Regions from separate parts of the Homo sapiens genome. Here all the other regions are linked to region 1. Evidence: fine-mapped QTL for protein levels in blood plasma. A gene starts in region 1. Each other region holds a variant in brackets. All regions are shown on one strand. Distances are from middle to middle. Region 1 holds the start of SPINK5 (serine peptidase inhibitor Kazal type 5). Region 2 has its middle 31 kb from the start of SPINK5. Region 3 overlaps SPINK5 (serine peptidase inhibitor Kazal type 5).

Evidence for each region. PIP is the chance, under the fine-mapping model, that this variant and not a neighbour inherited with it causes the effect. Protein levels are from antibody-based Olink assays in UK Biobank. Linkage for the fine-mapping came from a reference panel and not from the study's own genotypes, which makes the PIPs less certain.
Region 2: its variant is fine-mapped to the plasma level of the SPINK5 protein (UK Biobank, PIP 0.98).
Region 3: its variant is fine-mapped to the plasma level of the SPINK5 protein (UK Biobank, PIP above 0.99). The variant lies in the coding sequence of SPINK5. If it changes the protein, the assay may bind it differently, which can mimic a change of level.

Annotation. Positions count from the first base shown.
Region 1 is chr5:148,054,494-148,065,174 of GRCh38, forward strand. SPINK5 (serine peptidase inhibitor Kazal type 5) reads left to right here and starts at 9,487. Exons shown (of 33, transcript NM_006846.4): 1 at 9,487-9,606. The coding sequence starts at 9,552.
Region 2 is chr5:148,027,997-148,038,677 of GRCh38, forward strand. No RefSeq gene overlaps it. Among named protein-coding and RNA genes, the nearest start is that of SPINK5, 31 kb to the right of the region's middle. The variant A/T (reference allele first, on the strand shown) is at 5,329.
Region 3 is chr5:148,125,944-148,131,075 of GRCh38, forward strand. SPINK5 (serine peptidase inhibitor Kazal type 5) reads left to right here. Exons shown (of 33, transcript NM_006846.4): 30 at 1,040-1,136. Among named protein-coding and RNA genes, the nearest start is that of SPINK14, 40 kb to the right of the region's middle. The variant A/G (reference allele first, on the strand shown) is at 1,087.

The DNA of each region.
Region 1 (10,681 bases):
GCCCTTGAGAGTACAAAAGATAAAATCTATACAAAGGAGCCAAAAGACTGATAACAAATGCAATATGTGAACTCCAACCTGAAAGTTTGTTAACCAGTTGGCTTTCTACTTTATCTAATGGCAAAGATTATTTCTTCGACCAAACTTTAATCAAATTCCTCTGAACCCTCTTTTTGACTGGGCCTTAACCTTGGCCTATGAGAACTGCAAATTCTTAGCCCAAATGATGATGTCTACCTCCCTTTGTACTAAGAGGCTTGAACAAATGTTACCACAGTTTCTAATACCTCAAGAACATGTTCCTGATGACCCAGCCCCTGCTTAAGTTCCTATCTGAAAAGCTCAATGCTACCTAAATAATTTACTATTTACCTGACTGTAGACCCATGACCTCCCATTTCTTAGAGCATTTACTTTAGAAAACTTGCATCTATAAATTAGCAAACACAAATGGCCTAACCACAATGACCAACCTTCCCTGACATCTCCTTTAGTACTTTTCCTTTAGCACATGATATGGTTTGGGTCTGTGTCACCACCACATCTCATGTAGCTCCGATAATTCCCATGTATTGTGGGAGGGACCTGGTGGGAGATGACTGAATCATGGGGGCGAGTCTTTCCAGTGCTGTTCTTGTGATAGTGAATAAGTCTCACAGGATCTGATGGTTATAGAAGTAGGAGTTTCCCTGCACAAGCTCTCTTTGCCTGCTGCCATCCATGTAAGATGTGAGTTGCTCCTTCTTGCCTTCCACCATGATTGTGAAGCCTCCCCAGGCATGTGGAACTGTAAATCCAATAAACATCTTTCTTTTGTAAATGCCCAGTCTTGGGTATGTCTTTATCAGCAGCATGAAAACGGACTAATACAGTAAATTGGTACCAGGAGTGGGGTGTTTCTGAAAAGATACCCAAAACCGTGGAAGCAGTTTTGGAACTTGGTAACAGACAGAGGTTGGAACAGTTTGGATGGTCCAGAAGAAGACAAGAAAATGTGGGAAAGTTTGGAATTCCCTAGAGACTTGTTAAATGGCCTTGACAAAAATGCTAATAGTGATGTGAATGATAAGGTTCAGGCTGAGGTGGTCTCAGATGGAGATGAGGAACTTGTTGGGAACTGGGGCAAAGATGACTCTTCTTATGTTTTAACAAAGAGACTGGTGGCATTTTGCCCCTGCCCTAGAGATTTGTGGAACTTTAAACTTCAGAGAGATGATTTAGGGTATCTGGCAGAAGAAATTTCTAAGCAGCAGAGCATTCAAGAGATAACTTGGGTGCTCTTAAAGGCATTCAGCTTTTTAAGGGAAGCAGAACATAAAAGTTTGGAAAATTTGCAGCCTGACAGTGTGATAAAAAAAAAGAAAATCCATTTTCTGAGGAGAAATTCAAGCCAGTTGCATAAATTTGCATAAGTAGCAAGGAGCCTGATGTTAATCCCCAAGACAATGGGAAAATGTCTCCAAGAGATATCAGAGACCTTTGTGGCAGCCCCTCCCATTACATGCCCAGAGGTTTAGGAGGAAAAAATGGTTCTCTAGGCCAGGCTTAGGGTCCCTCTGCTGTGTGCAGCCCTGCGTTGAAGACACTCCAGTGGCTGAAGGGGGCCATGGCTTGGGCTATGGCTTCCGAGGGTGCAAGCCTGAAGCCTTGACAGCTTCCACATGGTGTTGAGCCTGTGAGTGCACAGAAGTCAAGAACTGAGGTTTGAAAACCTCAGCCTAGATCTCAGATATATGGAAATGCCTGGATGTCCAGGCAGAAGTTTTCTGTAGGGGTGAGGTCCTCATGGAGAACCTCTGCTAGGGCAGTACAGAAGAGAAATGTGGAGTAGGAGCCCCCACACAGAGTCCCTACTGGGCACCACTTGGTGGAGCTGTTAGAAGAGAGCCTTCATCCTCCAGAACCCAGAATAGCAGATCCACAGGTAGCTTGCACCATATGCCTGAGAAAGCCACAAACACTCAGTGCCAGCCTGTGAAGGCAGCTGGGAGGGAGGCGGTACCCTGCAAAGCCACAGAGGTGGAGTTGCCCAAGACCATGGGAACCCACCTCTTGCATCAGCATGACCTGGATATGAGACATAGATTCAAAATATATCATTTTGGAACTTTAAGATTTGACTGCCTTCCTGAATTTTCGACTTGCATGGCATCTGTAGCCCCTTTGTTTTGGCCAATATCTCCCATTTGGAACAGCTGTATTGACCCAATGGCTGTACCCCCATTGTATCTAGAAAGTAACTAACTTGCTTTTGATTTTACAGGATCATAGGTGGAAGAGACTTGCCTTGTCTCAGAGTGTGGACTTTTAAGTTAATGCTGAAATGAGTTGAGACTTTGAGGCACTGTTGGGAAGGCATGATCAGGTTTGAAATGTGAAGATATGAGATTTGGGAGGAGCCAGGGGTAGAATGATGTAGTTTGGCTCTGTGTTCCCACACAAATCTCATCTTGTAGCTCCCATAATTCTCATGTGTTGTGGGAGAGACCTAGTGGGAGATGACTGAATCATGGAGGTGGGTCTTTTCTGTGCTGTTCTCATGATAATGAATGAGTCTCTTGAGATCTGATTGTTTTAAAAATGGGAGTTTCTCTGCACAATCTCTCTTTGACTGCTACAAAGATGTGACTTGCTCCTCCTTGCCTTCCACCATGATTGTGAGGCCTCCCCAGCCACGTGGAACTATGAATCCAATACACCTCTTTCTTTTGTAAATTTCCCAGTGTCGGGTATGTCTTTATCAGCAGCATGAAAATGAACTAATACAGCACACCTCAGCATTAAAAAAGCATCCTGCCTCTGGTTTTAGCAGAATTGAGCTTGGTTTCTACTGGAGTTTCTTTTCTCTATTGGAATAGCCCAGATAAAGTGAGTCTTGCCACTTTTAATAAATATTCAGCTCTGTTTCTCTTTAACACTATTCTACAGGATCATAAGTTTAATGTACTGGTTACTTAAAGAGAAAGGAGCCTACATAAGACTGTATTTTCAACCGTATAACTGTGTCTATACATTTTTACACAGTTTGCATGTGACTGGGTCAATACATACGGTGAGTGTATTGTTTGCTATGGCTGCCGCCACAAAATACCACAGACTGGGTGACTTAAACAACATAAATTTATTATATTTTCACATTTCTGGAGGCTAGAATTTCAAGATCAAAGTGACAGCAAGTTTGGTTTCCTCTGAAGCTTCCTTCTTGGTTTGTAATGGGCAAGTTCCCACTGTGTCCTCATGTGGTTTTTCCTCTGTGTGTGCATCACTAGTGTCTCTTTTGTGTGTCCAAATTTCCTCTTCTAGTAAGGACATCAATCAGTTTGGTCTAAGGCCTAACCTTATAACCTCATTTTAACTTAACCACCACTTTTACTTATCTCCAAATATAGGCACACCCTGAAGTAGTGGGGTTTAAGGCTTCAACATATAAATTTTGGGCAGACAGAGTTTAGCTCTTAACATTGAGTACCTGAGACACATTAGTTACAGTTGTAGGCAATGTGGTTACTACGGTGTGTAGTGTTTAAGAAGCTGGGCTCTGGAGTTTGAATGCCTTTATTACATTGACTGTGATCATTTGCAAGATCACTGCTTACAAGCTGTATGACCTTGGAAAAGTTATAGAATCTCACCAAACCTCAGTTGCTTTACCTGTAAGAATAAAATGATACTTAATCTTTATATTTATTGTTGTACCTAAGTGCATGAAATGTGTTAGCAAATTTTATTTCTTTACAATTTTTTTTTTTTTTGAGTTGGAGTCTTTCTCTGTCACCCAGGCTGGAGTGCAGTGGCGTGATCTTGGCTCACTGCAAGCTCCGCCTCCTGGGTTCATGCCATTCTCCTGCCTCAGCCTCCTGAGTAGCTGGGACTACAGGTGCCCGCCACCACGCCTGGCTAATTTTATTATTGTTAGTAGAGACGGGTTTTTCTTTTAGTAGAGACGGGGTTTCACCATGTTAGGCAGGATGGTCTCGATCTCCTGACCTCGTGATCTGCCTGCCTCGGCCTCCCAAAGTGCTGGGATTACAGGAGTGAGCCACGGTGCCCGGCCTACAAATTATTTTGTAAAGATAATCTTTTTCTAACTTTGCTATAAATCTAACAGTTTCATTCTTCCCTACTGTAAACACACACACACACACACACACATATTACACATATAAAATTTGCAATGCTTTTTTGCTAAAATTAGGTAGACTTTTTTTTTTTTTTTTGAGAAAGAGTCTTGCTCTGTCGCCCAGGCGGGAGTGCAGTGAAGTGATCTCAGCTGACTGCAAGCTCCGCCTCCCAGGTTCACGCCATTCTCCTGCCTCAGCCTCCCGTGTAGCTGGGGCTAAAGACACCCGCCACCGTGCCTGGCTAATTTTTTTGTATTTTTAGTAGAGACGGGGTTTCACCGTGTTAGCCAGGGTGGTCTCAATCTCCTGACCTCGTGATCCGCCCATCTCGGCCTCCCAAAGTGCTGGGATTACAGGCGTGAGCCACCACATCCGGCCGGTAGACTCTTAGGTACTTCAGGATTAATTTGTTATGATTTATTGAAAGACTGTAGCTCCTCAAACCTCTGTTTTCTATTGTCAGGATAAATCCTAGGAGACTTTAAAATGCACTAAATTTTTGAGTGATAAACAGTGTGGGGCCATGGGTCAGGGGTTCAAGTAATATCAGCTATAGGGAGAAGCTGATTGTTGTTTCTAAAATAAAATATAACCCATATGAAAATATTAATACAATTAAAAATTAGACATTGAAATTCCTGTCTTCTTAATCCTAATCTAATAAAAGCAGTAATTATGTCTGTAAATAGCAGGGTCTATATACTCAGTAAACAAACAATGCCCATCCCATTCTATTATTAGATAAAATGAGAGGCTTATCTCTAGTTTCTTAGTCTTTCCAGACAAACAGAAAGGAATTCCTACAGAGAGAGTGAAGTTAGTTGGTAATGCAACATTACCAGATAAGAAGATGAGTAAAGGCTGTTTTCCAGTTAGTGTCTTTTACAAAGGAGAATATAGGCCGGGCGCGGTGGCTCATGCCTGTAATCCCAGCAGTTTGGAAGGCCAAGGCGGGTGGATCACGAGTTCAGGAGATACGAGACCATCCTGGCTAACACGGTGAAACCCTGTCTCTCCTAAAAATACAAAAAAAAAAAAAAAAAAAAAAAAATTAGCCAGGCACGGTGGTGGGCGCCTGTAGTCCCAGCTATTCCGGGAGGCTGAGGCAGGAGAATGGCATGAACGCTGGAGGCGGAGCTTGCAGTAAGCCGAAATTGCACCACTACACTCCAGCCTGGGGGACAGAGTGAGATTCCGCCTCAAAACAAACAAACAAACAGGAGAATATAGACATGTTAGATTGATGGGGGAAAATATTAGAATTATAGAAAAGAAAATAAAAAAATAAAAAAGAAATTATTTCATCTTTTAAGATATATTAGAATATATAAATTTTACTCATGGTCACAACATACCTCTTTTTGCCCAAGTGATTGTGTATGTGTGTCTGTGTGTGTGTGCATGCATAGGGCTGTATCTAGTTTAAAGCACTGTAACGTCTGGATTCTCTTTTTTTTTTTGAGATGGAGTCTCGCTGTCTCCCAGGCTGGAGTGAAGTGGCGCGATCTCGGCTCACTGCAAGCTCCGCCTCCCGGGTTCACGCCATTCTCCTGCCTCAGCCTCCGGAGTAGCTGGGACTACAGGCGCCCTCTGCCACGCCCGGCTAATTTTTATGTTTTCGGATTTTTAGTGGAGACGGGGTTTCACCATGTTAGCCAGGATGGTCTCGATCTGGATTCTCTTTGAACGGTATAAAAGTCTGTGAGATGGCCGTGGGGAAACTCAGAGAAATTAAAGGTATAAAATGTAAGAAAGTGTCAAGGCTGAGATGACCATCCCAGCTAGTTCCTACTGCAGGTTTCTTTTATGACACCAATTTTGGCTGGTAAAGAAAAGATAATAACACCTAATTGGCTGCCTCACAACACTGCATAAACAAATCAAAAGAGCTAATGAATGGCAGGTTGTTTTGAAAGCTGTGGAAGGTGATCTAATCATAAAAGACTATAGTTATTTATTAACTATTATCGTCATCAAGGCTCCCTCTGTGTAGAAAAACAGAAGACTTTAGGAATGATATGGTAACTTTATATTTTGGAAATAACCTTTGTTTGTAGTAACATTACTGATCTACAACAATCTTTATAATTTTCTCATTTCCTCCCCCTGTATCAGTATCCTTCAGATTCTGCCAACCTCATAAATGCGTAAGGTTGTAAAATTCATAGTTTTTATTATCTAAGCCCACTCATTTCTAATGAGAGGAAAAAAGTTTCTACATGTTTGATGAATAATTGAAAGAGTTAAAAACAAGGATGATATTTTGAGTTAGAAGAATACCTTGATAACCTAACTCTGACCCAAACCTGAGTTCTCCAAACCTTCAATCCCATTCATTTAAATGTAATATTCATGGTGATTTTCAGGAATGAGGAGTAATTAACAGAGCATGTGATGAATCACCTCTGGCTTTACAACATTCCTAAAATGAAATGGAGAAGAAGCCCTAATGAAATGAGCCAGCTGATGAGTACTTCCAATTTTGGGGGTGCTCACTGAATCTTCTTTTTACTACTTTCTCCATTTGGAAAAGATATCAGTTTCAAACTTTTTATTCATCATTTCAGAAAAGGCTGGCATCTCTGAGGAGCTCTTTTCCAGTAAGAAGGAAACCAATGTCTTCAATGTTTCCTCATAGTAGAGATTCCTAAGACAGGCAATCATCTTTTGGTTCTTCTGTTCCACCCTAGCACCACTTCCACTCCTGGGAATATTCTCCATTTGGGCTAGGCTAGGGGTCACTAGAGCATAATACACAGTCATTGATTCCATTTTAAGGCATCAAACTCTTTTACCGTCAATAACAGAATATATGGTTGGGACACATTTCGTATGGTCTGACAGGGCAGATGAAAGATAAAAAATTAGTATTGATATGTGAATATTTAGAAGAGGCTTTTAGAGAAAGAGACAAGAAATCAATGCTGATTGAAACAGAGCAATGGTTTTCGTTAAGTTTTAACAGGTGATGTTTCGATTTGTTTAGGCATTATGGTTTAAAATACAATTAAAAGGGAAAAAGAGAACATATATCGTTATAGTTTAATTTCACCTCAAATTGTGTTGGGGTAGTTTTTCTATGCTGAGTAAATATAAATCTATTGGTGAAATCCACAGTCAACAGATGTTTACTTTTCTTGGTATCTTAGAAATTATCTAGTACAACCACGTTATTATAATTATGTAAAAATGCAAGACCAGCTATCATTAACTATCAAGCTTATCACATAAACTTGATAATTGTTCTAAGCACCTCTCTCTCTCACACACACACAAACACACACGCATTATATATATGATTTATCTCTAAACCTCTTAGCACTAGTACAATGTACGTGTTATTATTTTTATTTTACATATTAGGAAACTGAGGCTTAGAGAAAATAAGTGACTTGTCCAAGGCAACATGGCTAACAATTCAAGATTTGGACCCATTTCTAGCTTGCTTCAAAGCTGGGTTCATTTCTATCCCTACATAGTTGAAAAGACTACATAGAATAGAAACAGATTTCTGAAACCCTGTCTCATTCTCTTTCCATTAAGCTATGATGGACTTTGATTTTCTAACCTGTAACAATAATGGAATTTGAACTTGCTTTCCGTGGTCACTAATTTTACTATTCCATTGGAAAGGAGCCAAGCTACAACAATAGTGCAGACCTTGAAACCAATGATTTTATATATATATATATATGTGTGTGTATATATATGTATGTGTGTGTGTGTGTGTGTGTGTGTGTGTGTGTGTATATCTTTTTTTTTTTTGATGGAGTTTTGCTCTGTCGCTGAGGCTGGAGTGCAGTGGCGCCATCTCAACTCACACACCCTCCGCCTCCCGGGTTCAAGCAATTCCCCTGCCTCAGCCTCCAGAGTAGCTGGGACTACAGGTGCGTACCACCAAGCCCATCTAATTTTTGTATTTTAATAGAGATGGGGTTTCACCATCTTGGCCAGGATGGTCTCGATCTCCTGACCTCATGATCCGCCAGCCTTGGCCTCCCAAAGTGCTGGGATTACAGGCGTGATACACTGTGCCTGGCCCAGTGATTATATTTTTATAGGAAATAAATTATTTCATGAGAGAAAAAAGAAAGGACGTATTATCTCACTGTGATAAATCTCATAATATTGGCATACTCCCTAAGTTGGGCAACTTTGATCAGTTTTCTGGAACCATCATAAAAAGGCCTTTAATTGGATAAAGTCTCGAACTTTTCTTCTGTGGATGTGAATATCTTGAGAAGTACTGGAATGAAACAATTTGGCTCTGGTTTCAGTCATCTTCACATGTTTCTTCAGGTGCTTTCTTAAGCTATTAGGGCAAAATAAGCTGGTAGAAAAAAGGTGTTACTTGTAGGATGAAAGAAGCAACTAAAGAGAAGAAACTTTCTCTAGAAAAATGTTACATTTACACATTTATAATTGTTAACAACTTTTTTCTTCTTTTCTTTTTGGGAGACTAAATAATGGGATGATACAGGAAGAAATATGATTTAGAGAAAACTGATTGAGCCAAATTTTTCAAACGGTAATATGGGTAATCATAGGCTATGGAAAGTTAAACTGAGTCTCCAATGTTTATGATTATGATGTTTGGCTAGGATATAAAATAAGGCTTCAGAATATAAAATATCCTGCAGATTGAGAAGTTTTAAAAGTAGTTACATACAAGTTTTATTTTTCCAACGTTCCTGCCTTTTCTAATGTCTAAGGATGAAGCAGTGTACAGAGAGGAAAGAATGTTATATGTGTGGTCTGCTTGCAAGTGCTGGATGCCTCCTCTGCCTGCTCCAACTAAACTGTCTGCTTATGAGAAAGTCATTGCTCCTCTGAGTTCCTGCCTCCCTATATATTCAACATTAGAATTTTGCCAGGTTATCTTTTAGGGTCGTTCAACTCTAACATATATATGAGTCTGTGACACTGAACTCAGACACTTCAGAACAGGAACCCTGGATTTCTCTGGATGTGGAAATCTTTAAATCTATACCTGACTGGTAGGACAACCAATCTGTCTTCCTTTCCTCTCCTCTCCCACTTATGAAGGGAGTCCAGTCAGAAACATGTTTGTCTACGAGGTAGTATATCTGGTATTTCTGAGGAATTCGGTTATTATATAGGATTATAGAATATTCAACTTTGAGTAGGGTCTGTGGACTCCATCAATTGCGTTCTGGGGGAGGTACCATGAAAGAACATTCCTACTTTAGAAATAGATATTCTCTGTTCAAACCTGACACCCTGACAGGATCCTAAAGGATGGAAGCTAAAGTGGTGTGGTATATAAGTCCCATGACCTTGAACAACTGGTTTTATGTGGGTGTCACCAGTGCTTTATAAAAGTAAACTGCATCGCCCCGAGTTCAGTCATACTGCACCAGCTGAGCAATGCATGGAGTGGACCTGTAGGCGACTTGCATCGTCTTCAACATGAAGATAGCCACAGTGTCAGTGCTTCTGCCCTTGGCTCTTTGCCTCATACAAGGTGAGCAATTTGTGTGTAATCTAAGCCTCTTGCCACACATCTCAAAGCCCTGGGGAAGGGACTTTTCTCCCCCTACTCCTGCCAAAAAATGTTTACGTATGCATGTATAATCCTGAAATGTCTTGCCAGACACAGAGTTCTGAAGATTTATATATGTGGCTTTATAATTATGTTGTTATCTTTAGAAATGGCAAGTAGTTTGAGATAATCTGAATTTTCTAACCATGAGAAATTCTTCCATTAATTCTTTATTAATTCAGAAAACTGAATAGATTCTTCTTCATCTTCCTCTTGCTAAATGTATCAATTCATAATGCATATTCTTATATATGTAATAGACATTTAAAACTTAATTGTAAATAATATATGTATTTTAATGTTATAGGTATAAATGAAATATTTTTTAAAATTCAATCATCTGTTCTTATTTTAAAGCAGTGGTATCTTCTAGCTTATTTTAGTCTTGTGTTTTCAAATGCTAAATGGGTTGAAAGCATTTCTCCCAAAGAGTGAGGGACTTTTGTGGGAGCTGGAAGGTAGATTTTTATATTTGCTATTTAACCCTAAGAGAACACAAATTGCCTAGACTTACGTTGCTCTGAAACATTAAAATTTTTAAAAAGAGAAACTCATAGATAGTCTGAAATCATATACAAATAATGCCCATTTTCCTAAAATAGGTGTGTAGGTACAAAAGAGCCTATGTTAATGAGAGAGTATAATAGCCTGTGACCTTAATCTTACCTTCTGTCAGATCTCTAACTTTTGCAGCTGTAATAAGGAGGTAGAGCTGCCAGAATTCAGAAAATTAAATTTTATGTATATATCCTATAAATGTAATGCTATATTATAGTTTCAACTATAATATAGTTTCAAAATTATAATTGGTATAGTATTTTGTGTGTATGTTATATTGTAATTTTAAAAGGGAGGCTGGCATTTATTACTCCGAAAGGACCTTTTGAAGATAAGCTATTTTGATGGGGTTAGAATTCACATGAGTATTATTTTCCAAAGTAATTGTAACTTTCTGAGTGATTAGACCTTTGTGAGTATATATACTAATCTCCTGGTC
Region 2 (10,681 bases), 26 kb before region 1:
AAAACATGGAATACTTCTTTACTTATTCAGATTTTAATGTCTCTCAGTAGTGCAATGGTACTTGCACTACTTTCTTAAGATTTACTCATAAATGTGTGATTTTCTAAAAATGCTGCTGTAAATAGTTCCTATTTTATCTTATTTTTCAATTATTTATTGCTAGTATATAGAGATACAATTGTTTTTTGTTGTTGACCTGGGTCCAGTGACCTTGATGAATTGATTTATTGATTGCAATAGTTTATCTTTTTATTTGATGTTGTATGTCCACAATTATGTCATCTGTGAAAAAAAAAAAGGCAGTTTTACACACTCCTTTCCAAACATTGTAACCTTTTCTTGACTTATTGGAATGGTTAGAACTTACTTTATAATGATGCATAGAAATAGCAGCCGTTGATGCTCTTTTTGTATTTCTGACCTTTTGGGGCAAGCGCTAGCATTTCACTATTGAATGCAACAATTTCTCTCTCTCTTTTTTTTTGTACATATCTTTTCTAAAAATCAGAATTAGGAAATTCCCTATAGTGCCATCTTCCAGTTTACCAATTCTTCATTCTATTGTGTCCAGCAGTTTCGTAACTTCATGTGTTATCTTTTTAAGTTCTGGAATGTCATTTGATTAATTTTAAATCCTCTATTTATGTGTTTAAGTTCCTCATGCTTTCATTTATTTTGTTCATGTTTTCTTTCAAATAACAAATGTATTAATCACAGTGAACCAAAATTCTGTTTCTACTACTTACAATATCTAGATTATTTTTACTTCTGCTCCTTTCGCATATTTTTCTCTTGCTAATTGGTTTTATTTTGTTACCATGTTGCTTGTCTAGTATTTTGTAAAATAGTATTTTGGACATAGTATATGATGTAATTATAAAGTCTCTATCTAGATGATACCATTTTCCACCGGTACTGTTGAATTATTCCTCCATTTCAGTTTTTTCTTTTAGACAGGATGAGAGCCTAATCACATAAATGTAATTAGGGGTTAAATTATCTAAAACTGGGCCGGGCACGATGGCGCACGCCTGCGATCCCAGCATTTTGGGAGGCCGAGGCGGGTGGATCACCTGAGGTCAGGAGTTCGAGACCAGCCTGACTAACATGGTGAAACTCTGTCTCTACTAAATACAAAAAGAAAAATTAGCCGAGCATGGCGGTGCATGCCTGTAATGCCAGCTACTTGGGAGGCTGAGGTAGTAGAATCACTTGAATCTGGGAGGAGGAGGTTGCCATGAGCCAAGATCATGCTATTGCACTCCAGCCTGGGCAACAAGAATGAAACTCTGTCTCAAAAAAAAAACAAGAAGTTATCTGAAACTAAACAGTTTCAGTGAAACCCATTCTACACTTGGATTGTATTATAGTCTTTCTGGACTTTTGATTGAGAGACTGTTGGGTGTAGGCCTTCAAAAACTGAGGGAGATCAAGTTCTGCTTTTCAAAGATTATCAATTTAATGGTTTTTGTGGTCAGAGAAAAATGCTTTGTGCAACGAAATCCTTTCGAATTTGTTCAGATTTATTTTACAGCACATAATATGATCTATCTAAATGTTGTTCCATGTGCACTTGTAAAAAATGTAACGGCCAAGTTGGTAATAGTGGTAAAGTCTTCTGTAGCTTTTCTGATTTTCCTTTACTTGTTCTATTTATGACTAAGAAATGGCTGTTAAAATCTCCAAGTCTAATTGGGATTTGTCTATTTCTTTTTCAGTTTTATCAAGTTTTGCTTCATTTATTTGATACTGTTGTTAGATGCAAACAAATTTAACATTATAATTTCTCTGTGACTTAATTTCTTTTTCTTTTTTTTCATTGTATTCTCATTTTATTTCGTGTTTCTTTTTTTTAATTTTATCATTTTTATACTTTAAGTTTTAGGGTACATGTGCACAACGTGCAGGTTTGTTACATATGTGTACATGCACCATGTTGGTGTGCTGCATTTTACCCATTAACTCGACATTTAGCATTAGGTATATCTCCTAATGCTATCCCTCCCCCCTCCCCCCACCCCACAACAGTCCCCGGTGTGTGATGTTCCCCTTCCTGTGTCCATGTGTTCTCATTGTTCAATTCCCACCTATGAGTGAGAACATGCAGTGTTTGTTTTTCTGTCCTTGTGATAGTTTGCTGAGAATGATGGTTTCCAGTTTCATCCATGTCCCTACAAAGGACATGAACTCATCATTTTTTATGGCTGCATAGTATTCCATGGTGTATATGTGCCACATTTTCTTAATCCAGTCTATCGTTGTTGGACATTTAGGTTGGTTCCAAGTCTTTGTTATCGTGAATAGTGCCGCTATAAACATACGTGTGCATGTGTCCTTATAGCAGCATGATTTATAATCCTTTGGGTATATACCCAGTAATGGGATGGCTGGGTCAAATGGTATTTCTAGTTCTAGATTCCTGAGGAGTCGCCACACTGTCTTCCACAATGGTTGAACTAGTTTACAGTCCCACCAACAGTGTAAAAGTGTTCCTATTGCTCCACATCCTCTCCAGCACCTGTTGTTTCCTGACTTTTTAATGATCGCCATTCTAACTGGTGTGAGAGGTTATCTCATTGTGGTTTTGATTTGCATTTCCCTGATGGCCGGTGATGATGAGCATTTTTTCATGTGTTTTTTGGCTGCATAAATGTCTTCTTTTATATTGCATAAATATATGCATAAATATTCTTCTTTACCCCTGGTACTATTTCTGGTTCTGAAATCTATTTTGTCTAACATCAATATAGCCACTGCAGCTTTCTTTTGATTAAAATTTACATTGTACATATTTTCCATCTTTTTACATTTAATCTATGTTTTTATGTTTAAAGTGGATTGGCTATAGATATTATATAGTTGAGTCTTTGCTTTTTTATTAAGTCGATTTCTGCTTTTTATTCAGTAAATACTGCCTAAGTGAAGTATTTAGACCAGTTACATTGAAGGTAAATATTCATAATACTGGATTTGGATCTATTATCTTACCATACATTTTATAATTTTTTTTGCCTTTTTTTGGTCCCTTTCCTGCTGTCGTTGGATTTTCTTTTTAATGATTCCATTTTATCCCCACTATTGGCTTAATAGTTATGTATCTTTTAAAAATTTGTAAGTTTTATTTTAGTGTTTACAATATATGTCTTTAACTTGTACAGTCTACTATTAAATATTATACCATTCCATTTAGTATGTAATAATCTTACAGTAGTATACTTTCACTTTCTTCCATCCTTTGTGCCATTGTTATATATTTCACTCCTCCATTTGATAAACCTCAAAATATATTTAACTATTTTTTTAGAGCCTCACATCTTTAAAACATGTTAATAATAAAAATAATGTTTACATTTGAGTTTGGGAGTTAGTAAAAGTGGAATCTCATCTCATTTCATTTATTTTTAGTCCGGGTATCCTTGACCGAACTTGATGCTTTCCCACATCCTTGAAAAAGAGCTATCTCTTCCTTTCTATTTATAGCAAGATGTTGAGATGATCACTGAGACCTGCAAAAAGATTTGTATTCCTCAACAAAAATCTTTTCATAAATTAATGAACTTTTATTTATTGCTGCAATATGTAATTTATACTTCTTGAAACCTGTCTTTGGAAAAATTCCAATGAAGAATGAAATGCCCCCTTTCAGGGGGCAACTTATGATTTATTAACCCAGTGAGACTAACAAACTAAAATTTTATTAATGCAGCATAGTTGCCAAAGTATATAGAAACATTCTATATATTCTATGTTTCTGCTTTGTGAGATTTTAGTAAACATTCTAATCTAGGAGGATTTGGTGATCAAATGGTTTTAGAAAATGCTACAAACTTTATTTTCCTGCAGGAATTTCATTTAGCTGAATCTCTTTGGTCTAGGAATATTTTTTAGCACTTAAACAGAAGTTCTGCAGACAAGCAAAGTTACTTAATTTGCTTAAACTAAAATTGGCAAACACATTGGACTCTAGAAAGCTTTTTTCTTTTTTTTTTTTTTTTCCTGAGACAAGGTCTTGCTCTGTCGCCCAGGCTGGAGTGCAGTGGCGCGATCTTGGCTCACTGCAACCTCCACCTCCCGGGTTTAAGCGATTCTCTTGCCTTAGCCTCCTGAGTAGTTGGGATTACCGACATGTGCCACCACATCTGGCTGATTTCTGTATTTTTATTAGAGATGGGGTTTTGCCACGTTGGCCAGGCTGGTCTTGAACTCTAGGTCTCAATTGATCCACCCACCTCAGCCTCCCAAAGTGCTGGAATTATAGGCAGGAAACACTGCACCCAGCCTAGAAAGCTTTTTTCTATTGGTACAATTGTAAGTATCTCATTTTTTATTGAATGTATTTTGAGGATTACTGATTTAAAATATTCAAATGTTTTTCATTTTTATCATTCCTAGATTTAGAAAAGATAAATAATTTATATTTAATTCTATCTACCTTATTCACCCCCTTAAAAATCCATTGAATGCCTGCCATGTGCCAGGCATTGTAATTTATACAAATAATGGTATTACTGATCTTTGAGTACAGATTATCTGGCTTCAAACTCAATATTGGTTTTACTTTGCTTTATGCACTTTATCACAGGGGCCTCCATCGAAACTTATTCATAATACCAGATATTTCCAAGGCATTACAGCATGGAAATGTAAAATCTAATTCTAGCTCTTTCCATATTATATGATCTTGAGAAAACTTGCTCTCTGCTCGGTACCTCAATTTTCCTTGTCTCCAATTCTAAACGTAATTCTAAATCTACCAGAAAAGCATCTCTAGGTATTATTCAATAAAGAATGCAATTCAGACAGGAATATAGGCAGGTTTTTTTTTTTCTTTTCATTAATGCATGCTCTATATACATTAAAATTTGCAGATCTTAAGTATACAATTTGATAATATTTATGTAAACATGTATCTGTATAATCGCCATTTAGATCCAAGTGTAAAACATTTCTATTGCCTCAAAGTTTTCTTTGTGCCTCATTATGGTCATTGCCTCTTCCCCCCAGACACAGACATTGCTGTTTGAACTTCTATTACTATAGGTTTGTTTTGTCTGTCTGGAAGTTCTTATAAAGGGAATTATATGCCATATAATCTTTTGTGTCTGGCTTCTTTCACTCCATATAATGTCGCTGAGAGTCATTCAAGTTGCTACCTAGTGTTTTAATGCCAGTAGGACTTCAGTTTCTTAACCTATACAATGAAAGGGATTGGGCTAGATGAACTCTGAAGATTTTTTGAATTCTGAGAATGAGAGGCTCTTTCCACTGTTTTGCAATAATTAACATGCAGGAATTCTGACCTGATTCAGTTGCCATGATACCATGACA[A/T]TATTGGGAATGACAGCTTTGAATGTGTCATCCAGTGAGAGGATGACATTGCATGTCTGGGCGTGGAACATTTTATGCACCTCTGTAATGTAAGGTCAGAAACTTTTGTAGCTCAGGATGACCTTACTGATTTCTGAGCCCTCCCACATCTAGCATTCTTCCCATGTGACATATTAATTGAATTGTCTATATCACATTTCTAAAAGTCATTGATAAAGAGACTTAAAAGAAGACTTTATGCAAAGCTTCTGCCTAATTATGTCTTGGTAATCTCTCTATGTGTAGTGTTTAGGGGTCATCTATGGGATCAGACAGACTCATATTCAAATCCTGGTGCTTCACTTCTATCTGTGAAACCGTGGGCAAGTTGCTTAAATTCACTGAGTCTGTTTCCTCACCTGGAAATGAGGGTAATGATAGCTACCTCACAGTGTTGTTATAAAGAACTGAATGAGTTAATGCATGCAAAGTGTTCATAGTGCCTTGAACTTGAGTACTGCTCAGTCAAGGACAGCTGTTAGTGCTGCAGCTTCTCAGCAAAATCTGTTATCTTGTGCTCCTGCAATTCCTCACTGAAGTTCCCTTTCTGGGACAGTCCTGTGTGTTCACATTTGCTGGGACAAAAGTGAGTGTAAGCAGTGAGTAGTGAACAGCCACAGGATTTTAATCAATCCTGTGAAGAGGGAAACTTTCCATAGAGAATGAACTGGGGCAGTTAAAAGAGAATGAGCAGTGACTGGAGGATGGAAGCCTTGGGTTCTAATGACTTCCTTAGTCAAGAGAAGTTTCATGACCTTGATTGTGGCACTAAATCTCTTTAGAATAAACTAAATAGTGTAACACTTTTGAGCAGTGATCCCCAACCCCCGGGGCCACAGACTGGTATTGGCCCATGGCCTGCTAGGAACTGGGCTGCACAGCAGAGGGTGAGCAGGGTTTAAGCAAGTGAAGCTGAGCTCTGCCTCCTGTCAGATCAGTCATTAGATTCTCATAGGAGCATGAACGCTATTGTGAACTGTACATGCAAAGGACCTAGGTTGCATGCCCCTTATGAGAATCTAATGATAAACGTAATACACTTGAATCATCCAAAACCATTCCCCCCCCCAACCCTTGTCCACAGAAAAATTGTCTTCCACAAAACCGGTCCCTGGTGCCAAAAAGTTTGTGAATCACTGGTTTAGAGAACAGTTGTTCATTGGTATCTTTGGGGGATTGGCTCCAGGGCCTCCCCCATATAAAAATCTGCAGATGCTCACGTCCCTCATTTAAAATGGTGAAGTATTTGCATATAACTTAGGCATTTCTTCCTGTATACTTTAAATCCTCCCTAGATTATTTATAATACCTAATACTATGTGAATGCTATGTAAATAGTTGTTATACTGTATGGCTTTGAGAATAACAACAAGAAAAAAGTTTGTACATTTTCAGTACATATATGCAATTTCTTTTTCAAATATTTTTTATCTGTGCTTGGTTGAATCCACAAATGAGGAACCCCATAAACATGAAGAACTGACTATATGTGTTTCTGGTTCAAACTCTGTTCTGCCACTTACTCTCAAATCCTTCAAACTCTCCCAAAGGAAGTTTTTCCATATTGGAAAGCAAGATAGTACGGAAGTTAAGAAAATGAGTCTGGATTCAGATGAATTGGATTTGAATCCCAAAGTTGCCATTAACAATGTGTAAAATCTCAGACAAGCTAATTTATTTCTCTATTCATTGGTTTCCTGATCTGTAAAATGGGTTGTTGCAAAGATAAATTAAGAATACTTTTAACAGTGCCTGGCACAAAATAATTAGTCAATAAATGTTAGATATTATTCACAAAATAGGTATCATGCTACCTCTTCAGATTACTGAGGATACTTAAATGAACTAAGGTTAAATGACCAGAACAAATCTTAATTATTATCAACATTGTAATTTATGAAAACATGGCTGGAGATGTAATGAGATTTGAGGCAAAATTGAGATCATCAGGAGAAAATTAATAGATTTACTATTTCTTAAATGGAAAAATAAGAAAAATGAGTGGGAGAAGTTATATTTATGGTTTATAATACCTATGAAAAGAATGCTTTTATTTTTGCTCTGAAGTAGGAAAAACTAAATATAAGTTCTCAACTCAGCCAATAAAATAATAATAACATAGGCAATAATACTGATAACAATAAGTTTAAAATGATATTTTCATGAAGTAAAAACCGAGAGAGAACATGCAATTCTTTCTCAAGTGAGGTCCTTGCTTTGTGGAGCTTCTATTCTGGTGGGAAACACAAATAGTAGAGAAGTAAATAGGTTAACAAAAAGAAGACTTCAGACAGTAATTATTGTATAAAGAAATGAAAATAAGCCATTTCATTAAAAAGCAACTGGTCTTGGGGATGTAGTAGAGGACAATCTGCTTTAGATTTGGTTGTAAAGAAAAGTCTCTCTGAAAAAATAATATCTTAAGTTGAGCTGTGTATAATAAAAAGGAACCAGCCACTCTCAAATCAATGGCAGGGGCTTTCCAGGCACAAGAAGCACCTGCTATAAGATGCTAAAGTGGAAGTGAGCTTGGCACAGTTGAGAGATAGGAAGGGGACTGATCATAGCAGAATATTATAAGTGAGTGGAAGAAACAATAGTACAAGTTGACATTAGAAAAATTTATTTGCAACTTGTAGGCCACAGCTGGGAGTGTGGACCTAATGCCACATGTGAAGTTTGATGGAAAACCATCAGAAGTCTCTAGGCTGGTTGTTTACTTAATCTCATTTATTTTTTAAAAGGCATGTCAGGCTGCTATGTGAAAATCCAGATAGTGGCAAGGAAGCTAATGAGGAGGCCAGAGCAGCAGTCCGTGTGAGAGATGGTGGTGTCGGTTTCTGTGAAGAGATTCATGTTGTAGAAGAAGAGTCAATAGGACTTACTGAGAGATTAAACAGAAAGGGCTCATAAGAATCCTACGTTTTTGGAGATGGTATTGAAGCTGGAGACATCTTCTAAGCTAGGCTGTGGTAATGGAATGTTAGAACTGGAGGGTTGATAGGCTGAAGTCTAAAAAGCTGCATGATAGATATCCTATGCTGAATTTTGCCATTTTTCTTTGGGTGTATGTTTAAGTTTCTGTTGTTATTTTGTTTTATTTATACATATATATATGTTTGTGTATATATACTTAATTTTAATTATTTAATTATGACATAGCTATCGTCAATATCCAGAATTTATATATCTGTAAACAGAGGCAAGAAGAGGCAAAATAACTTATTCAAGTTTACACAGTTAGTGATTAACTATATGACCATTTAAGATATTTATGGACCCTCCATATTGCTCTTCCAAAAGGCTGCACCAATACACACTTTCCCTGCACCATATAAACAATGCTCATCTCCACAAACTCTCCCAGCATTGCTAGTGTTTTTCTTTTTAAGCCTTGTGAATCCAAATTGAATCCTCTTTCTGGTCATTAAGGACTGCGGGCCTTCTCTTTGGCTAATTTTGAATCTTTTGGGAGGGAGTCGGGAAGAGGATTATCAGAGAGAACAAGAAATGAAATAATAATAATAATAACAATAATAATATTGAGAGTTTATAATTGCCAGGAACCATTCTAAGCACTATATACATATATACATGCATATACACACATGTATACATATATATACACATGTATATAAGTATATATGTATATACATGTATACATATATACACATGTATATACTTATATATGTACATGTATATACTTATATGTATACATGTATATATAAGTATATACATGTATACATATATATACACATGTATATACTTATATATACTTATATACATGTGTATATATATGTATATAATACTTAGAATGGTTCCTGGCAATCATAAACTCTCAATAAGTATACTTATTTATACATACATATGTGTATATATACTTAACTTTAATTATTTAATTATGACATAGCTATCATTAATATCCAGAATTTATGTATCTGTAAACTGAGGTAAGGAGAGGTAAAATAACTTGTTCAAGTTTACACAGTCAGTGACAGATGCAAAGCTAGTCATTTACCTGCAGAATCTGTGCTTTTAATCATTATCTGCTACTGACAACCTACAAGACATCTGGTTGGTGAATGTTTCATTTACACAAAGAAAACAGTGTAAGATAGTTTATGTGGTTCAGGTATTAGAAACTCTAGTAGTTAGGAAAAAATACACACAAGCTGAATAAGTCAGTATTGATTTAGTTAGGATTTGATTGAAATACTGAAAGGGAAAAACTTTCTCTACTCTCTGTGTTTCTGTTCAGGTGTCTTCATTATCAGAATATGTGTGGCTTAGCCAGAAAAACCATCATCCTCATTATCACCATCACTACCAACTCCTGAGTGCCTACTATATTCTGGGCCCTTAGCTATAAGCACTGGAGATATTATGGCAATCCTGGAATTACAATCACTTTTAAAAGGGGGACTAGATTAAGTGAAAAGATCCCATTGGTATGAAGTGGTAGAGTCTGTATTCAAACACAGTTTGTCTCTGTCTAACTTTAAAATCTTTACTCTTCCCAAAGTGGTAAATGAAGGAATAAGAAGACAGATTCATAAGCCAAGATGGTGTCAAAGACAAAGAATCACATAGGTTTACAAATATTTAGACAGTAAGCAATAGCAAAATTATCTGGACTTTGAAAAGCAGAGATGAATAGAAAGATCTTGATTCTAAGGCGGGAAGGAGTCACTGGAGGATTTTTGTGGATAGAAGTCACAAAGTAGGATTCGTGTTTGGAAGGAACTATTAATAGTTACCACTTACTGAATACCTATGAAAGCCTAAGAATTTTCAAATATTTAATATAATAACTTTATGAAATAATTTAATCTCACTTGAGGCTCAGAAATTTTAAGTAATTTGCTAATGCTTTCATGGTTGGTAAAGAGTGGATTCAGAACTTAAGATTCTGATCTAATTGGAAAGCTGATGTTCTTGCCTTCCTTGCTAATAAATGTTATAGGGATATAGATCAGACAACACTGCCAGATTTGAGAGTGATGGAGGCTGGGCAATGTGACAGCAGCTGGCAGCAACAGCCAATATCAATTTCATTTCACATGAGGGGACATATAGAAACTCATAGTTTTTCTGGTTGGCTTTTTCTTTATTTTCCTTGAAAAGGCTATAGGTAGTATATTCTGAAATTCCCTGAATTTTCTAGCAGTATGTTGGAATGCTTGAACCCATCTTTCTTTTTTTTTCAGTGTAAGCTTGGCATATGATCAAGAAATATGGTTTTTAAGTGTTTGGGGGAAGAAATTACATCAAAATTGAGAGGTGTTAAAGCTTCAATTGGGTCTTGAGAGATAGG
Region 3 (5,132 bases), 69 kb after region 1:
ATGGGATTTTAAAAATAAGTCTTTAGAATTAAAGCCCTCAAATTGAGAACACCTGATATAGTAGAAAGAACACTGAGACTTGGAGACAAAAATTCCGTATGTAAGTTCTAACCAAGATGTATACTAGCTGTGTCATTAAACAATTTGTTTTCAACTTTCAGCATCATAATTAGAAGAAATTCTTCAAGATCTTTATTCCACAACTAGATCAGACTCAATTGAGATGCCTTTAAAAATAAATACAAATTTTTACACCCCAAAATATATTATATCAGAATCTTGGGGCTATGGAATTTGTTTTTTAGAAAGAGTTTCTAGGTTATTCTAAAAAGCAAATAGAAATGGAGACCAATGGACATTATAAATGATGATGATGATGATGATGATGATGGTTGTAAAGCACACTGTGAACACAACAATAATCAAATTTCTTTAGCTTTTCATAGTGAGTGTTCTTTGAGGGGGAATTACCAAATACTACTCCCATTTTATGTTCTAGAAAATCAAAACTTCAGAACATTAACCCACTTGTCATCTGTTAAGTGATGAAAGTTCTAAACCAGCTCCTAATTGTGTACTTTTCTTAATATGTCATCCTGGTCACTATCTCAATGTTCTGTGATTCTGTTTTATTTATTTATTTATTTATTTATTTATTTATTTATTGAGACAGAGTCTCACTCTGTTGCCCAGGTTGGAGTGCAATGGTGCGATCTCAGTTCACTGCAACCTCTGCCTCCTGGGTTCAAGAGATTCTCCTGCCTCAGCCTTTCGAGTAGCTGGGATGATAGGTGTGCACCACCATGCCCAGCTAATTTTTGTATTTTTAGTAGAGATGGAGTTTCACCATGTTGGCCAGGCTGGTCTCCAACTCCTGACCTCAGGTGATTCGCCAGCCTGGGCCTTCCAAAATGCTGGGGTTACAGGCGTGAACTACCATGCCTGGCCTCTGTCACATTTTATGAGGATTGCTTAACTTCTCACTGGAAGTTATAGGAACTGTTTCTTATTTTAAATTATTTTTTATTTTCTTCTCTAGTCTAACAGAAGCTTTGGAAAGGGCAAAGCTTCAAGAAAAGCCATCCC[A/G]TGTTAGAGCTTCTCAAGAGGAAGACAGCCCAGACTCTTTCAGTTCTCTGGTAAGGAGGACTATTTCTGAAAAGCTACTTATCAATTTAATTTTCTTGATTTTTTTTGACCTGTTGCTATTTGCTATTTTCATAGAAGGGTCTGAGGTTTGCTGATTCAGTGCAGCCTGAAGTCCTTTGAGGACTATATGCAGTTTATGCTTGGTGAGAGTTCTGGGATTTCTCATTAGTGCCTTATCCTGTGCCCTTTGAGATTATTTGCCCTGCTTCAATTTAGTACATTTTGAAATTTACAATGTGTGTGTGGAATAATTGTGACTAATTTCACATATGGTAAAATACATAGTCAGGTGCCTCAATTCTGTAATTTTAGCATACCTCTTGGTATTCTTAGCTTCCTCACCTAGCTTCCGCTTATTTCCCTCCTCCAACCAAATCTGTTTCTACATCCTGGAACTCTATGCCAAGCATGCTCACAGGTATAAATTTCCGCCAATTAGCAATTCGCAGTAGCTAAAGCTTCTTGTTTAAAATATAGGCTGAGCTGGGTGCGGTGGCTCATGACTATAACCCCAGCACTGTGGGAGGCCAAGCGGGCAGATCCCTTGGCCCCAGGAGTTTGAGACCACTGTGGGCAACATGGTGAAACTCTGTCTCTAGAAAACTTACAAAAAAAAAAATTAGCTGGGCATGGTGCCTTGTGCCTGTAGTTCCAGCTACTTGGGAGGCTGAGGTGGAAGGATGGCTTGAGCCCAGGTGGTCGAGGCTACCATGAGCCGTGATAGTGCCACTGCACTCCAGCCTGGGTGACAGAACAGGACCCCACCCTTCTCTCTTCCTCTCTCTCGTAGCTGATGGTCACCAGTAATGTAAGTATTAGTCTACATTAGCATGATAAGATTTACTTTGTAGAGCCTTCACAAGATGAGGAGTAGAAAGGAGCAAAGAGGATATGAGAACATCAAGCAGATTCTCAGATTGGGCCCTAAAAGGAAGATTTTAGCACCTAGGCTGATGACCCAGAAAAGGAGAAAGAAAGGTATCAAACATGAATTTTACTTCATTATTCACCCAATTCAACTAGGGTAATAGATGAGTTACATACATGAAATATGCATTAATTACATATTTCTGGTAAATTGAGCTCCACATCAGGGATCCGAAGGCATGGAGAAGAGCTATTAACAAAATATGTTTTTTTTTTTAAATACTAAAGTATAATAGTTACATAGAAGAAATGTACATATGCAAGTAAATAGCTAAATGAAATATCACAAAGTGATCATACCTGTGATAGCAGCAAGAAATAAGATATCATCAGCAGACCAGTAGCCCCCTCATTCTCCCTCATAAGCTACAGTCTGCTTTGGAGCTATTTCTTTTGGAGAAATAAATCTTTCATTATTCATTTTTTTCATCAAGCCGGCAGTCCTTTTGTCAGTCTACAAATACTTACTGAGCACCTGCTATTTTTCCAGGCATTATTTATTTACTTATTTATTTATTTATTTATTTTCTGAGAGGGAGTCTTGCTCTTTCGCCCAGGCCGGAGTGCAGTGGCGCGATCTCGGCTCACTGCAAGCTCCGCCTCCGCAGTTCACGCCATTCTCCTGCCTCAGCCTCCCGAGTAGCTGGGACTACAGGTGCCCGCCACCACGCTAATTTTTTGTATTTTTAGTAGAGACGGGGTTTCACTGTGTTAGCCAGGATGGTCTCGATCTCCTGACCTCGTGATCCGCCCGCCTCGGCCTCCCAAAGTGCTGGGATTATAGGCGTGAGCCACCGCGCCCGGCCTCCAGGCATTATTTACGTATGCTAGGTTAATAGCCATAAACAAAACAGATAGCGCTCACTACATGAAGTTCATAGTATATTGGAAAAGCAGATACAATAAATAATATGAATAAATGAAAAAATAATGCCAAGGAGGAAATAAGGCAGAAAAAAATGGTACAGTAAATTCTGAGATGGGGAGGGGAGGGGATACAATTTTAAGTGACATATACAGAGAATAACTCTCTCAGAAGGTGACATTTACATCAAGACCTAAGGGTATTGATTCTGTAGGTATATCTGAGGAGAACATATTCCAGAGAGAAAACATAGCAAAGCGTTTAGTGTTGTTGAAATAGAGCTACCTCAGCTGTAGAAGAGGAAGTCAGGAAGCTAATGGGAGGCCATGTTATAAAGGGTTTTGTAGACAATTTTAAAGACTTTGCCTAATATTCTGAATGAAGGTTCTGAGAAGACTAATATGATTTGATTTATGTTTTAAAGGAATAACTTTGCCTGATACCTATTGAAAACACTGCAGGGAGGCAAGGGCTGGACAGCTAGTTAGCTATTGCAGTTGTCTACAGAAGAGATGATGCTGGTTTATACCATGTTAGTAGTGGTGGAGCTCTTGAGAGGTGGTAAGATACTGGGTCTGTTTTGAAGGTGGAGTCAACAGAATTTTTTGAGTTGATGTACTATGTTAAAAAAATGAAGAGAGAGAGAGAGTAAGGAACATTGTAGTACCTTTTGAACATTATAGCACCAGTTACCTGAAAAAATACAATTGATATACCTGGTTGAGTCTAACCTTTGCCAGGGTTTCATATAAGTTACTTATCTAAATTCTCTGTGAATATTTGTACCAATATGGAACTCACCACAATCTAAAGCAATTCATTTAGGTGTTTGAATCATTTATCAAAACAAAGGAACAAGTACACAAATACTGCTTGACTCCTCCAAAATGAGTATTAGCAGATATAATACTATTAAATTTTCTATGTCGTCTTTGTATCTGTTTTCAGTAAGTAGTTTTCAAGGAATTTATTAATTTCATCTATGTTGTCAAATTTTTTGGCATGTAGTTATTTATAACATTTCTAAATTATTCTTTTAGTATCTACAGCTCATATAGTGATGACCTGTTATCTCTAATATTGGTAATATATGTTTTCTTGACTCTGGTCAATTTTGCAAATAGCTTATCAACTTATTCTTTTCAAGCAGCTAACTTTTGGCTTTGTTCTATTTTCTATTTCATCAATTTCTCCTCTTTATTACTTATTTTAAAAAATTTTCTATGCTCATCATTGGCTAGCTCCTTCAGATGAAAGTTTAGATCATCCATTTTAGAACCTCTTTCTTTTCTAATATATGTATTAAAGTTATAATTTTCCCCCAAATTACTGCTTTGGCTGCTGGGATTTGATAGGTTGTATTTTCTTTGTGATTCATTTCATTTCTAAATTCTATGATTACTTTGAGTCATGAGTTATTTAGAACTCATCCTTTTACTTATAAATATATTTCTTATAAATATTATATAGTTGATTCTTTTTGTTCTTCCAGTTGGATAATTTCTGTCTTTTAACTGGAGTACTTACTTCTTAATATTCTATGTAATTACTGATACCATTGGATTTAAGTCTTCCATCATCCTATTTGCTTTTGAATACTTTTTTTATATTTTGGCTCTACTTTTTGCCTTTTTAAAAAACTAATCAAGGTCTTGGAATTATCATTAATTATTAAACTCATACTTCCAAAACACTACGAAGAGCAAATATGTTTCTTCTTTTACATGGAAAATATACATATGTTTTTTACCGTGGAAAACATACTAACAACTAAAATTTACTGAACACTTAGTATGTGACAGATACTGCGTTAAGCATGAACTTACATGCATTATCTGTTTTAATCCCTTCAAGCAGTAATATAAAGTAAGGACTACTATTATTTATGATTTTCTGGTGAGAAAATTAAGGCTGAGAAAAGTTAGATAAGTTACTTCTCTAGTTAGTGGTAGAGCTAGGACTCAAAAACTCATGCAATTTATGAGTATTTACCTCTGAGTCTTTCCTTTCTAGGCTGTATATAACCAATACCTTCACTTAAAAAGGCGAATATTATTTCTGGCATGCCTATCATTCTAGATTTCTTCTTATGGGCAGGTAATTGTGTCACATATTATAAAGGATATTTGCTTTCTTATTGCTTTGCTACTCCTTGTTTCTTTGTTTACTTACCTTGTCAAGTTAAAAATTGCCA